Linked DNA regions of Homo sapiens. The protein of the gene in region 2 purifies or fractionates together with the protein of the main gene of each other region. This does not show direct contact. Each region holds a gene or a part of one and is shown on either strand. Other genes may lie near its edges.

The links.
Region 1: the proteins of TNFRSF13B (region 2) and RRP1 purify together in Homo sapiens (co-immunoprecipitation; 3 studies listed by BioGRID and IntAct, with this or other methods). This does not show direct contact.
Region 3: the proteins of TNFRSF13B (region 2) and FIZ1 purify together in Homo sapiens (co-immunoprecipitation; 3 studies listed by BioGRID and IntAct, with this or other methods). This does not show direct contact.
Region 4: the proteins of TNFRSF13B (region 2) and RBM27 purify together in Homo sapiens (co-immunoprecipitation; 3 studies listed by BioGRID and IntAct, with this or other methods). This does not show direct contact.

What each region holds. Positions count from the first base shown.
Region 1 is NC_000021.9:43,792,577-43,796,076, forward strand, and holds part of RRP1 (ribosomal RNA processing protein 1 homolog A), read left to right. Parts: intron 1-95; coding exon 96-153; intron 154-742; coding exon 743-828; intron 829-2,612; coding exon 2,613-2,674; intron 2,675-3,500. UniProt on the Homo sapiens protein: Plays a critical role in the generation of 28S rRNA.
Region 2 is NC_000017.11:16,962,119-16,965,618, forward strand, and holds part of TNFRSF13B (tumor necrosis factor receptor superfamily member 13B), read right to left. Parts: intron 1-3,500. UniProt on the Homo sapiens protein: Receptor for TNFSF13/APRIL and TNFSF13B/TALL1/BAFF/BLYS that binds both ligands with similar high affinity. Mediates calcineurin-dependent activation of NF-AT, as well as activation of NF-kappa-B and AP-1.
Region 3 is NC_000019.10:55,590,876-55,593,696, reverse strand, and holds the end of FIZ1 (flt3-interacting zinc finger protein 1), read left to right. Parts: intron 1-50; coding exon 51-1,247; 3' UTR 1,248-2,321; downstream 2,322-2,821. UniProt on the Homo sapiens protein: May be a transcriptional repressor of NRL function in photoreceptors. Does not repress CRX-mediated transactivation.
Region 4 is NC_000005.10:146,202,479-146,206,404, forward strand, and holds the start of RBM27 (RNA-binding protein 27), read left to right. Parts: upstream 1-1,126; 5' UTR 1,127-1,287; coding exon 1,288-1,346; intron 1,347-3,926. Other genes in the region: RBM27-POU4F3, read left to right, coding at 1,288-1,346. UniProt on the Homo sapiens protein: May be involved in the turnover of nuclear polyadenylated (pA+) RNA.

The sequences.
Region 1 (3,500 bases), on a different chromosome or scaffold from region 2:
GAGTGAGTGAGTGGGTGAGTGGGTGGTTGCGTGTGTGTCATTGTGAGAGCCTGGTGCTTCAGGGGCTGAGGGCGTTTTTGTTGTTTCCTACACAGGAAGAATTAGGAAGGACTATTTCCCAGCTCGTTCATGCTTTTCAGACCACGGAGGCGCGTGAGTATGCTCTGCTGTAGTTGGGTGCATTTGTAGATGTCAGAACCTCTGAGCATCAGAGCCACCAGACCCAGGAGGTTTGTGTTCTCAAATCCAGAGTAAGGAATGCCTAAGGGCAAGAGAGCGCCAGCTGGTGTCTGTGGGTGCTTAGCATGTGTGCAGTGCTGGTGTAAGTATTCAACATGGATTAGCTCATTTACCCAAAACCCTCATTTCGAGCCTAATGGGCTAATATCTTACACTTTAAAAATAAAGTGAAAAGCCAGGATAATGTCACCAAGAGATTGGACTGAATTCCGCCTGATGGTCCTGAGGTTCCTGCAGTTGATTTTTCTGACTCCTCTGTTCTCTGGTGACCGGAGTTGAGAAGTTCTTACCCTGCCTGTCTGTAGGACTCACTTGAGGAGCCTCTAAAAATCCTCATGTCCAGATCCTGGTCCAGCAAGATCCAGTTCTGGGGGTAGGGCCTGGGCATCAGCATTTTTTATCTATAGCTATGTAAAGAACGGGTTCCTCCATGTTCTCACCTCCCTCCCCAGAGTGGCTTCGTGCTCCTCAGTGGTTCTCTTCTGGCTTATTCCTTCTCCAGAGCACCTGTTCCTTCAGGCCTTCTGGCAGACCATGAATCGCGAGTGGACGGGCATTGACAGGCTGCGCCTGGATAAATTCTACATGGTGAGGCAGCCACCAGGGTGCCGGCGGGCGGGGGCAGCGCGGGTCTCAGTGCCTGGCCAAGCGAGACAGGCGGCACCTGGGCAGGGAGGCAACCTGAGGCAGTGCGACCCTGAAGCCAGGGGTGGGAGGTGGAGCCGAGACTCTGGGCGGTCCCTGACCAGGGCTCTGCAGCTTTGTCCAGTCTCTGAGGGTCATTGAATGGGCAAGGAATTCGACCCTTAAAACACCACACAAACTTTTGGTTCAGAGAAGGAAAGTGACGATTGCTCTCCTGGTGAGAGTCGATGGTGACACCGTTGTTACCTTGTCAAAGAGGCAGAGTGAGTCTGGAGGCGCAGCAGAGGAGCTGCGGTCACGCCCTAGCATGAGCCCTGGAGTGCTTAGCCTGCGAGGCTGGGATGGATGGTCACAGTGTGGGACTTCCTTTCCCTCCTCCCTCATTGTATCCCCGTTCAGGGCACTGATTTGCCCTGAGAATACAGGGGAACACTGGGGTTTAGAGGTGCAGCGTGTTGCTGCCCGGACCTGCTTCTCTCCTTCCCTCCTTCCCTCTTGTTGAACCATGAGGTCTCGTTACTAAGGTGGTGGTCATTGTAACCTTAGAGCAGGCCTGAGATACAGGGACATTGTCACTGTGTAGGAGTCGGTCACCCAATGGGGACACTGAAAGGGGCCATGTCCGGGTCTCACTGAGGACAGATGTTGATCTGCCACTCTGGCTTCAGTGTCCAGCTCAGATTCGGGCCAGGATTGTGCAGACAGCATATATACCAGTGATTCTAGAAGTGGAGACCAGGGCGGGAAAGGCCTGGAGCTCAAGAAGGAAGGAGGCTCCAGGGCAGGCCAGGGGCCCGGCCATGCACTCAGACAGAGTGCAGACTCTTAGGGACAATGGGGCTCTGCAGGGAGGCCACCCTACTGTTTTGCTGAGATGTGGCTGCTGGGTCCCTGGATGGATGCGTTCTGCTGCTTTCCATGGCTCGTTTCTGGGTGCCCCTTGTGTGGCTGAGTCCAGCAGCACAGCCTTGCGTCAGGGCTAGCCTCGGTGGCACCGCAGGGTGTTGTGGGGGATAGGCCTCCTGTGTCTGCAAGAACAGTGTCCGGGCTGCTGGGCTGTGCTCTGTCATCGGGGCTCCTGGGGGTCCGCGTGTCCTCTGCTGCTACTGACTGCAGCTCAGACCCCACTCTGGGCGTGTGGGCATGCTGGGTCAGTAGCCTAAAGGGGGGACAACTGCAGAAGGGTGTTGAGCCCCATGGAGGGAAATGGCATTGTTGATTCACGGGTGAGGCTTGGCGGGAGGGCCTTCGCTGTGTAGTGGACCGCAGAGGAAGTGAGCTACATTCTGCCCGTTGCGGGGGGTTTGGTGAGGACCAGCCGTGTTTCAGACCTGGTTTTGCGGAGGGCTCCACCGCCCGTGGGGGTAGCCGTGCCTCTTTCCTGGTTCTCCCTTATGAATCGGACTGTTCCGTTTCAGCCCCGGTTTATGGACTGGAGTCGTAGGACTGTCCCCTATTACCCCCGACCCCCCATGCACCTGCTTCCTGCCAGCTGGGGCCTTGGAGCCGGGGATAGGGCATGTTCTCAGCCCAGGGTTCTGAGGGCTTGGTGGTGTGTCCTCCAGCGTCTGTCTGTCAGCAGCTCTGGGGGCCGGCTGTGTGCTGGGGCCGGCAGAGGTCACCACGGCCATGACTTTATCCTGCAGCGGATGGTGGTACATGGGGATGGGTGGTCTGGCGAAGTAGGGCTGGGCTTCTGCTAATGCCAACCTCCTTCTGTGTCAAAGCTCATGCGGATGGTCCTGAACGAGTCCTTGAAGGTTCTGAAGATGCAAGGCTGGGAAGAAAGGTGGGTGCGCGGCGGGCCTGCTCTGGGGGGACGCTGTTCTCGGGGACCGCAGTCGTGTTTGTCATTTGATTCTTTGCCATAAGGAGATGTCAGCCTTTATATTAACGCATGCCCCCAATCGTGCTTAGAGAGAAGATAGTTTTTAAAGTAAAAATCAGTTTGTGTGTTTGTGGAAATGATGCCATTTATCCTCAGGCTTGGAGGCCAGTTCTCACTGGGAGTCAGAAGGGAGTTTTTTAATGAAAGGGTGTCCAGCCGAGGAGCTTCTTATAAAAACACGGCATGTTCCGCTTCATTAGCAATGCTTTTTGTTTTTTTGAAATAGGTGTCACTGTTGCCTAGGCTGGAGTGCAGTGGCGTGATCTTGGCTCAACTACAGCCTTGACCTCCCGGGCTCAAGTGATCCTCCTGCCTCAGCCGCCCAACTGGCTGGGACTGCAGATGTGCACCACCAGGCCCACGTAATTTTTGTATCTTTTTTTGGTAGAGACGAGTTCTGTCCTGTTGCCCAGGCTTGTCTCAAACTCTTGGGCTCAAACAATCTGCCTGCCTAGGCCTCCCAAGTTGTAAGCAATGTTAATTGCTCCTAATTCTAAAAATATGTAAATTGGCTGGGCGCGGTGGCTCACATCTGTAATCCCAGCACTTTGGGAGGCCGAGGCGGGCAGATCACAAGGTCAAGAGATCGAGACCATCCTGGCCACCATGGTGAAACCGTGTCTCTACTAAAAGTACAAAAATTAGATAAATGCATAGAAAAGAATTAGCAGGCTGGTTATGGTGGGTTAAGGGGATCTCTTGAGCCCAGGAGTTTGAGGCTGCAGTG
Region 2 (3,500 bases):
TGACAGGGTGGATTTGTCCCAGAGCTGGAGATGAATTACCTGCATGGAAAACAGAGGAGTTACCAACTCCAGGGAAACAAAAGACATTACTGAGAAAAGAAAGGTAGGCCAGGTGTGGTGGCTCATGCCTGTTCTCCAATCACTTTGGGAGACCAAGGCAGGTGGATCATTTGAGGTCAGGAGTTCGAGACCAGCCTGGCCAATATGGTGAAACCCTGTCTTCACTGAAAATACAAAAATTAGCTGGGTGTGGTGGTGCATGCCTGTAATCTCAGCTACTTGAGAAGCTGAGGCAGGAGAATCACTTGAAACCAGGAGACAGAGGTTGCAGCGAGCTAAGATTGTGCCACTGCACTCCAGCCTGGGCCACAGAGTGAGACTCGGTCTCCCCCCCCAAAAAAAAAGAAAGAAAAAAAAAAGAAAGGAAAAGAAAGGTAATCATAGGACATGTACAGCAGCTCAGCTGTGGGCAATATTTATATTGTCATAAATAAATGAGCCATCTGAGTCAACAAATAAGGTGGAGATGTGGAATTATTCCTTCTGTAAAAGAGTTTACTCACTGTGAGAGCCATTAGACCATTGTCAGTGAGCAAAGGCAAAAACAGGCTTTCTAGGAGAGAGCAAGGAGAAGGGGAAGAACAAAACTGCAGAGGAGTTGACATTCTGGAGCAGAGCCGGCAGCCAGCAGGTCTATCTTGACTCCAACTGAAAACGCACCCCTCCTTCACCGGGGGCCGGGGGAGGGGAAGCTGCATGCATGCAGATAGTGACGTCCAAGTTAAGTTCTCACCTTAGAAAGTGGGGAATCAATCCAGAGCGTCTAAAATGGACAAGTCAAGGACCAGCAGGGGGAGTGGACCAGATTCTGAGCCACTTTGGGGATGAGCCTGGGGAAAGCCACAGGGCAGCCCTGCTTGGAACCCTGGGCTGTGAGTCATGGGGCTGGTACTCCTTGCTGTGTGACCTTGGGCACGACTTCTGCTCTTGGACACCCAGCGTCCTCCCCTGTAAGATGAGGATGCTGTTGCTTACTCACAGAATCACTGTGAGCAGCATATGCATGGCAGGTGCCTAGTATGGTATTGAGCACGTTAGTAAAGACAACCCCCTGAGCTGCTGCCCTTATTAATATTGCCATTTCTTATGATAAGGAGTGCTGTGCTGGACAAGGCCTACACCTGGATCGAGACAACAAAAATTTTAGGGGCCAATTCCTGTTGGCGTGAGCCAACTCCCTCTTTTCCTCCTTGGTGGGGAGGTGTCTGTGCAGGAGTGAAGGAGCAGGGTTGGGGCGATGGGTGGGCTCCTCATTCTTGCCCTTTACAATTTCACCAAGAAAACCTGTAGATGTGACTGAAAGAGAAGGAACAGTAAAAGCTTGGCAGATAGGAGGAATTTCTTATCAAGTTTTGTTTTTGTTTTTGTTTTTGTTTTTTTGGTTTTTTCGAGACGGAGTCTGGCACTGCCACCCAGGCTGGAGTGCAGTGGCACCATCTCGGCTCACTGCAAGCTCCACCTCCTGGGTTCACGTCATTCTCCTGCCTCAGCCTCCAGAGTAGCTGGCACTACAGGTGCCCACCACCACGCCTGGCTAATTTTTTTGTATTTTTAGTAGAGACAGGGTTTCACCGTGTTAGCCAGGATGGTCTCGATCTCCTGACCTCCTGATCCACCCGCCTCGGCCTCCCAAAGTGCTGGGATTACAGGCGTGAGCCACAGAGCCCGGCCTTTCTCATCCAGTCTTTCAAGCAAACACTGACTGCAAACTTGGGCTGGGGGCTATGAGTTGAGCTCACCAGTGGGGTAGGGGCAGGAGAGGATTCCAGCGTGCAGAGATAGGGTGTGTGCCCCGATAAGGCTGCAGCCTGAGACCTGAGGGATGTGCATGGGAATGGATGGTGACCTTACAACCTGGCTTCTGCTAACTGGGAAGGAGAAGGAGGAAGAAATGGAGGAGGAAAAGAAGGATGAGGAAGAGGAGGCAGAAGAGGAGAAGAAGGGAAAAAGAAGAGAGATGAGGAAGACAGGGAAGAGAAGGAGAGAAGGAAGGAGGAGGAGGAAAAGATGGCTTTTGGTTTCTGTGAGCTGTATATGCTTTTTCCCCGGGCTATTTTGAAATACTGAAAATGGCTCTAAGACCCCCCTGCCTGCTCCCACCTCCACTCAGAATGAACCTTCAGAGATGTTCAAGGTTGAGAGTCCACCATCTCCATGCCTTTTTTTTTTTTTTTTTTTTTTGAGATGGAGTTTCACTCTTGTTCCCCAGGCTGGAGTGCAGTGGTGAGATCTCGGCTCACTGCAACCTCTGCCTTCCGAGTTCAAGCAATTCTTCTGCCTCAGCCTCCCAAGTAGCTGGGATTACAGGTGTGTGCCCCTACACCCGGCTAATTTTTGTATTTTTAGTAGATGAGGTTTCTCCATGTTGGTCAGGCTGATCTCGAACCCCTGACCTCAGGTGATCTGCCTGCCTCAGCCTCCCAAAGTGCTGGGATTACAGGCGTGAGCCACCACGCCCGGCCTCCCATGCTGGTTCTAAAGGAAGAAGAACTTAGTTAGGTCCTGGGAAAACTGGTCAAGTCACCTTCTCAGTTTTCTGTTTGTGAAATGGGGACAGCCACTTCTACCCATCATAATTTTCACCTCCTGCCAGCTCATGTTGAAAACGGATTCGCCATGGTTCAGTGACCCAGAGTGTGCCGGAGTGAAGTGCCCGTGGTGGGGAAAGCACGGCTGAGTCATCTTGGGAAGGACTCTGGCTGTGCACAACCTCAGTTTTCCTGACCTGTAAAATGGACACTCTAGACTTTCTTTTGTAGATCTTCTCAAGGGTGTGTACATGACAAGCATGTAACTGGCCCAAGACATGGCTGCTGCTACTGGTATAATAACTACCAGTAGTGATATAAATAGTATGAAATATAATGGGTTAATAGTTATCATTTTATAATAATTTATAATAATGTAAAATAATTTTAATATTAGTGATAATTAACATTTTCTTTTGTAGAGACAGGGTCTTGCTCTGTCTCTACAAAATTACAGTGGTGCAATCATAGCTCACTGCAGCCTTGAACTCCTGGGTTCAAGTGATTCTTTCCCCTCAGCTTCCCAATTAGCTAAGACAACAGCTGTGAGCCCCTGTGCCCAGCCAATGATAATCATTAATAATGATAGTAGCATCAAATTAGTGCTCTGGGCTGGGGGAACTACCCCCAGAACCTGAACTCCCAGAACCCACTGCTGGGTGACATTTCTTGTTGGTAATGTGACATTTCAGGGTATAGCCATTCTGCCTCCCCGTACTGTCTCATTTGTCTCTGAATCCAGTGCCTTCCAAGATAGCAGGCACACAGCAGGTGCTGGATAAATGCTAATCAGTAGCTGGATATAGTTGTACTCAGTAAAGACTTGCGGAAGGAAAAGCAAGCCGCATTCTTGCACTGTGCTGATAGACAGCTGGGCAGGGATCATACTGAGTTTCAGCAGCAGCTCCCTCC
Region 3 (2,821 bases), on a different chromosome or scaffold from region 2:
CGGGCTAGGTTCTCAGCCCTGACGTTGTGCCCTTCCTCCCGCACCCCTAGGTCGTCCACACTGGTGAGAAACCCTACTGCTGCCTGGTCTGCGAGCTCCGCTTCTCCTCACGCTCCAGCCTGGGCCGCCACCTCAAGCGCCAGCACCGTGGGGTTCTCCCCTCTCCCCTGCAGCCCGGCCCTGGCCTGCCCGCCTTGAGTGCGCCCTGCTCCGTCTGCTGCAATGTGGGGCCCTGCTCGGTGTGCGGGGGCTCAGGGGCCGGCGGCGGAGAGGGCCCCGAGGGGGCAGGCGCGGGTCTGGGCAGCTGGGGGCTGGCAGAGGCGGCAGCTGCGGCCGCGGCCTCCTTGCCCCCATTTGCGTGCGGCGCCTGCGCGCGGCGCTTCGACCACGGCCGCGAGCTGGCGGCCCACTGGGCGGCGCACACCGACGTGAAGCCCTTCAAGTGCCCGCGCTGCGAGCGCGACTTCAACGCGCCCGCGCTGCTGGAGCGGCACAAGCTGACGCACGACCTGCAGGGCCCGGGCGCGCCCCCAGCGCAGGCCTGGGCCGCGGGGCCAGGCGCAGGGCCCGAGACGGCGGGCGAAGGCACCGCTGCGGAGGCGGGCGACGCTCCTCTGGCTTCGGACCGCAGGCTGCTCCTGGGCCCCGCGGGGGGCGGCGTGCCCAAGCTCGGGGGGCTGCTCCCCGAGGGCGGTGGGGAGGCGCCTGCACCTGCGGCGGCCGCCGAGCCCTCGGAAGACACCCTGTACCAGTGCGACTGCGGGACCTTCTTTGCGTCGGCCGCGGCCCTGGCCAGTCACCTGGAGGCCCACTCGGGCCCGGCCACCTACGGCTGCGGCCACTGCGGGGCTCTGTACGCGGCGCTGGCCGCCTTGGAGGAGCACCGGCGGGTCAGCCACGGTGAGGGCGGCGGGGAGGAGGCGGCGACCGCCGCCCGGGAAAGGGAACCGGCGTCCGGGGAACCCCCGTCTGGCTCCGGCCGCGGCAAGAAGATCTTCGGCTGCTCCGAGTGCGAGAAGCTGTTCCGCTCACCGCGAGACCTGGAGCGGCACGTGCTGGTGCACACTGGCGAGAAGCCGTTCCCGTGCCTGGAGTGCGGCAAGTTCTTCCGCCACGAGTGCTACCTCAAGCGCCACCGGCTGCTGCACGGCACCGAGCGGCCCTTCCCTTGCCACATCTGCGGCAAGGGCTTCATCACGCTCAGCAACCTCTCCAGGCACCTGAAGCTGCACCGGGGCATGGACTGACTGCCAGGCTGCGTGCGCCCTGCCCTCCACCCAGCCTCCTGGACTCGGCCTGGACCAGGGGACCTCGGGACTGCGCGTGAGGCCCCGGCCCTCCAAATCCAAATCCAGACGCAGGCCCTGAAATGAGGGGACCCTGACTGGAGAGGTGGGGGCCACCAAAAACCCACAAAGGCCCCGGAGCTGGGGGACCACAAACAAACAGGGTCCTTAGCTGGGGCAGGGGAGCCCAAATCTAGGGAGAGACTCCTGAGCCTGAGGTCCCTGGAATGAGTGTGGGTAGCCGTAAGTCCCCAAGACATGGGGACTTTGCAGTGAGCAATGGGTCTCCACAAGTACCTCTCATCTTGAGAGCCCTAATACTAAAAGATGGGCACCCACCCCCACCAAGGGAAGACTGCCCCATTCCCTGAGAGCCATCATTCCTAACGACCTTGATCTGGAGAATGTGGAGGGAGCATGTCCCTGAATTTTCCTAGATCCCTCCAAATGCCACCCACCAGAGTCACTGGTGACCCCAGAAAATGGATATAGCCGAAATCTGCCTTTCCCCTTTTTCATTCCCTGTGCTGAAAGAGGGACCAGGGTAGATGCCCCCTGCCCTCGAATCCCCCCTCCCCGACTGTGGAATGGATCGACCCTAACGATCTTCCCCGCCCCAAACACTAGAATAGACTGGCCTGAAATCCCCTTGCCCAGTAGAATGGACTGATCTATGTGCACACACCCCCATCACATGGAATGGGCTGGTCTAGGCTGTGGCCTGCCACCTTCCTTAGAGTGAATAGGGCGGACACTCCTCTCTTTTCCTGTAGCGTGTGGACCGGTCCACGCAATTCTTTATCCTGTGAACTCATCTGAGTGGGAGGTGGTGGACACTGGGGTTTCCTTCCCTCTCTCCGTAGCATCCGTTGGTCTTTCTCTCCATCTCTGTTGGTTTGTCTGTCTCTGTCTTCCTCCCAATCCCTAGGGGAAGGGGGCATTTGGCTAGGGGGTGCCCCTGTGAGCCTCGACCTTGCCCCCTCGTCCCTCTCCCCAGTGTTTCCAGGACCCCCAATAAACCTTGTCCTGTCAGTCGCTGATGCCTCATTTTCTGATCCTTGGCTCCAGGCGGGGGGGATGGGGAATCTCTTAGGACAGACTCCCTAAATAGAGACGGGTCCTCGTTTTCTCCTGAGAAGTTTCAAAGCTTTGAATAGTACATGCCCTTTTAAATTAGAGTCGGTTTAGGCTGGGCTTGGTGGCTCACGCTTGTAATCCCAGCACTTGGGGAGGCCGAGGCAGATAACCTGAGGTCAGGAGTTCAAGACCGTGCCTGGCCAACATGGGGAAACCCTGTTTCTACTAAAAATACAAAAATTAGCCGGGTGTGATGGCACATGCCTGTAATCCCAGCTACTCGGGAGGCTGAGGCAGGAGGATCTCTTGAACCTGGGAGGTGGAGGTTGCAGTGAGCCGATATTGCACCACTGCACTCCAGCCTGAGCAACAGAGCGAGACTCTGTTTCATAAATAAATACAATTAGAGTCAGTATCAATCAAAATGAGTTCCGTCCCTTAAATACATGATCCACCTC
Region 4 (3,926 bases), on a different chromosome or scaffold from region 2:
GTTTGCCTATACCTGTTCTATGTATATATAGGATGTCTGTTTATTTGAGGTTGATCCATTTCTTTTATATGAGGTGCGTGCTCATTAGGTATTTTTCAAAATGTTATTACAATGCATAACCCCATAAACTGTTCATCATCTTAAGAGGAGAAGCTCTGTTTTGCTCAGCATTGGACTCCTAGTGCCTTACTCAGTGCTGGCAATTGCAGGGACTCAGTATATGTTATTGGGTAAACATTTTAACATCAGTGCTAAATCAGTGATTTCAAAACTCCAGAAAGAATTTCTCACCTACTAGAAAGTAAGTTGACTATTTCAGTAGTTTCTAATTTGTCTTAAAAATTTTTTTGTAATCCTTCTTTGCTGATTAAAATTCTCCCTTCCCGTCCCCCAACCACTGAATTTTAGATATACAATGAAAAGATAATTAAAAACAAACTATTGGAGTCATTTTTCTTCCTAAATAAAGCAACATTTATTAATAGTACTAGCAAAATTGAAATGGCCTCAGCCTTTTACATCCGTGCGCCACGTTTTAAAAATGACGATTACTGGATTCCAAGGCATGGTTGTCAGAAACATTCTGCGTAATTAAAGCAGAGCAGCAGAAAATACAAACGTGAGTGCCAATCAACATGAGTGTGTAAAGAAAAAAAGTAAAATTTTGCATTCTGTGCAATGTGTCGAACGTGAACGTATTGCACGTTGTGTTGCAGATTTACTACAGCTGAGTCATTTCGGGACACGAGTGTGTGTTTCCAAGAAAAACGAGAGGAAGGAACCAGGCTGAGGGGCTCGCCGGGTTCCCCCAGGCACTCCCAGCAGCAGACACCGGTATTCCGCGGCGGGCGGCGGCGTGGTCAAAAAAAGGCGCCGCTGCCCCTTTAAGAGGCAAAGCACCTTTTCCAAGATACCATCTTGCACCAGGAGTTCACTTAAGCTCTCCACCTACCTTGCTATATCTCTCCTCCCTGACTGGGTACCGCCTGCCGGCGGGGCGAGCGAGCCTTTTCATTGGTCTTGCCCTCAGGGCCCCCTCTCTCTTACTGGTTCTCAGGCCTGCCACTCGGCACTGTCTCCCGCCCACCTCAGCCTTCGGGCTAGGTTGAGTGAGGGCTCTTGGGTTAGTTCCTGTTAGGCCCCGGCCGGGGGAGTAGGTTGAAGTCTCCTAAGATGCCCGGTGGGCTGGGGCACCGGGAGCTGTGAAGGGAACGTGAGGGGGCGGCGTAGTGGAGACCCACGGCAGGCCTGAAGAAGAGCGGCGGCCGAGCCCGCCTTCCCTGCACCATGCTCATAGAGGATGTGGATGCCCTCAAGTCCTGGCTGGCCAAGTTACTGGAGCCGATGTGAGTGAGCCGGGCTGGGCCGGGGCCGGCGAACGTGGGCGTTGGGGGCTCGCGGGGGCGTGGGGGAGGGGAGGTGGCGTGGGGGGCGGCGCTGAGGGGCCGCGGCCGGGAGGTCCCGGCGACGCCTTCCCTGTAGTACTATCACCATTGTGGTGGGGGTGAGGGTGGGAGAGGAGCGCTGGGGACGGAGAGGCGCCGTGAATATGGGGACTGGGGGGGCAGGCAAGGACAGCGAAGGCTTTTCAAACGCAAATATCGGGGTGCTGGAAGGGGTAGCAGGGGCCGTGAGGGAATTTAAAACATTGCTGTTTGAGAACTGAGAGAGAGGTAACGGGGCTCTTGAGGGATTTTTAAAATGTGAATATTGAGATGTCGAAGGGAATAGCAGAATATCAAGGGTTTGATAAACATTATTATTCCGGGACTGAAAGGTCTAGAAGCAAAATATCGAGGGCATTTTCGAAATATGAGGGCAGAAGCGGATAGCAGGGACATTGAAACTGTATAGCGATTATTGGTAAGTTCTGAGGGATCAAGAATATTGAAGGATTTGAAAAATACTATGGAGTAGATGAAAAGGATGTGTGGGCATTGAAGGGTTTTAGAAATTATTGGGGAGGTGATAAGTGTGATAGCAAGGATATTAAGGGATTTTAAAGTATTATTGAGGGCTTGATAGTGCTAGGGGAACTGATGACTTTTAGATACATAGAGGTTGGAAAAAAGAGGTTTCTGTAAGTTTAGTTGAAGGTTGAAAGGGCTACACTGGTATGCAGCATTAATTGGTGGAGGAGTATACCTAACAGTATGTAGGGATTTTTAGATACAGGTGGTGTTGGAGGAATAAAAGGAGCGGTAGAAAGAATAAGAGATTTGTAAGTATTCTTGTGCCATTGAGAGGACAGTTTTGTAAATGTTTTTGTAAGATTGAGAGGACACCTGAAGATAATTGGGGTGTAGTATGAGGGACCGAAAAGAATGAGAGACCTGTCTTTTAAAAATATTTTGGGTGGTGTTAGTAGAAATGTTATTGGGAGGCTTGAAAGAGGTAACAGATGTATCAACATTTTGTTTTATAACCTTTTTTTTTTGAAACAATGTCTCGCTGTGTCTCCCAGGCTGGAGTGCAGTGGCTGGATTTCGGCTCACTGCAACCTCCGCCTCCCGGGTTCAAGCGATTCTCCTGCCTCAGCCTCCCGAGTAGCTGGAACTACCGGCGCGCGCCACCACGCCCAGCTAATTTTTGTATTTTTAGTAGAGATGGGGTTTCGCCTTGTTGGCGAGGCTGGTCTCGAACTCCTGACTTCAGGTGATCCGCTCGCCTTGGCCTCCCAAAGTGCTGGGATTACAGGCGTGCGCCACTGGACCCGGCCATGTTTGATAACCATTTTAAAGGGTAGAGTTGTGGAGTGCTTATTTGGGGGAATGGGGTATGGCTAGTTACTGGAAGGGAAAGAATCATGTTTTGCCTCCTCCTTGCTTCTGCTTTATTATTCTCTTATTGAAGGTTAGAGCTTTCTGCTTGAAAGAAAGGGGTAGAAGAAGAGATGGGCAGGCTTTGATTCATTAGGTCAGATTGCATTAGTGGAAAATTTGAGTGTTTTTCGGAGGTGAAAATAGGGAGTAGTTTGGGAGGTGTGGAGGCATGGTAAAGGAACTTCTGGGGGACAGTGTCAAGCTACTTCCCTGTTGATCTCTTTCAGTGAAAATGACTGAACACACTTGAAGGTTTTGTAGAAGAATATAGGTCTCTTGAATAGGGGTTTTTTTAACTCCTACAATAAAGTTTTGGGCACAAAGATGGAAATGGTTTGTGGTGAAGGTGGGAAATAAGATGGATGTAATGAAATTGACCATATATGGGAAAAGGTTGAAAAAAGAAAAATATCTGTATGTTTAAAGTATTCTTCATGTGGCTGGGCACGGTGGTTCACGCCTGTAATCCCGACACTTTGGGGGGCCTAGGCGGGCGGATCATGAGGTCAGGAGTTCAAGACCAGCCTGGCCAATATGGTGAAACCCCGTCTCTACTGAAAGTATAAAAATTAACCGGCTGTGGTGGGGCGTGCTTGTAGTCCCAACTACTCGGGAGGCTGAGGCAGAAGAATCGCTTGAATCCCAGGAAGTGTAGGTTTCAGTGAGCCTAGATCAGGCCACTGCTCTCCAGCCTGGGCAACAGAGCCAGACTCCGTCTCAACAAAATAAAAATAAAAAAAGTGTTATTCATGTTATTTAAGATTAAAAAAGAAAAAATACATCTCTTTATTTTGTATTTCTGCTGCTCTGATGCCTTTAGAAAAAACAACCTACTTTCCAGACAAGTTTAGTTTTGTTGGTAGCTATCCTTTTAAGAAGAATTAAACATACATTTTATGTCTTGGATAGAAGGTAACAACTTTTAGCCTTATAGTTACTTGCTTTTTCTTTTTTTTAAAGCTCCCTAAGATGTTTTACTCTGAGTAGTGCTTTTCGTTTTTTGTTTTTTTTTTTTTCCCCTTAATGTTGAAGGTTAGTCTGGGTGGGAGCTTCTTCTTGCTTAGGCTTTTTTTTTTTTCCTTCTTTTTTTTAAAGCTACTTAGA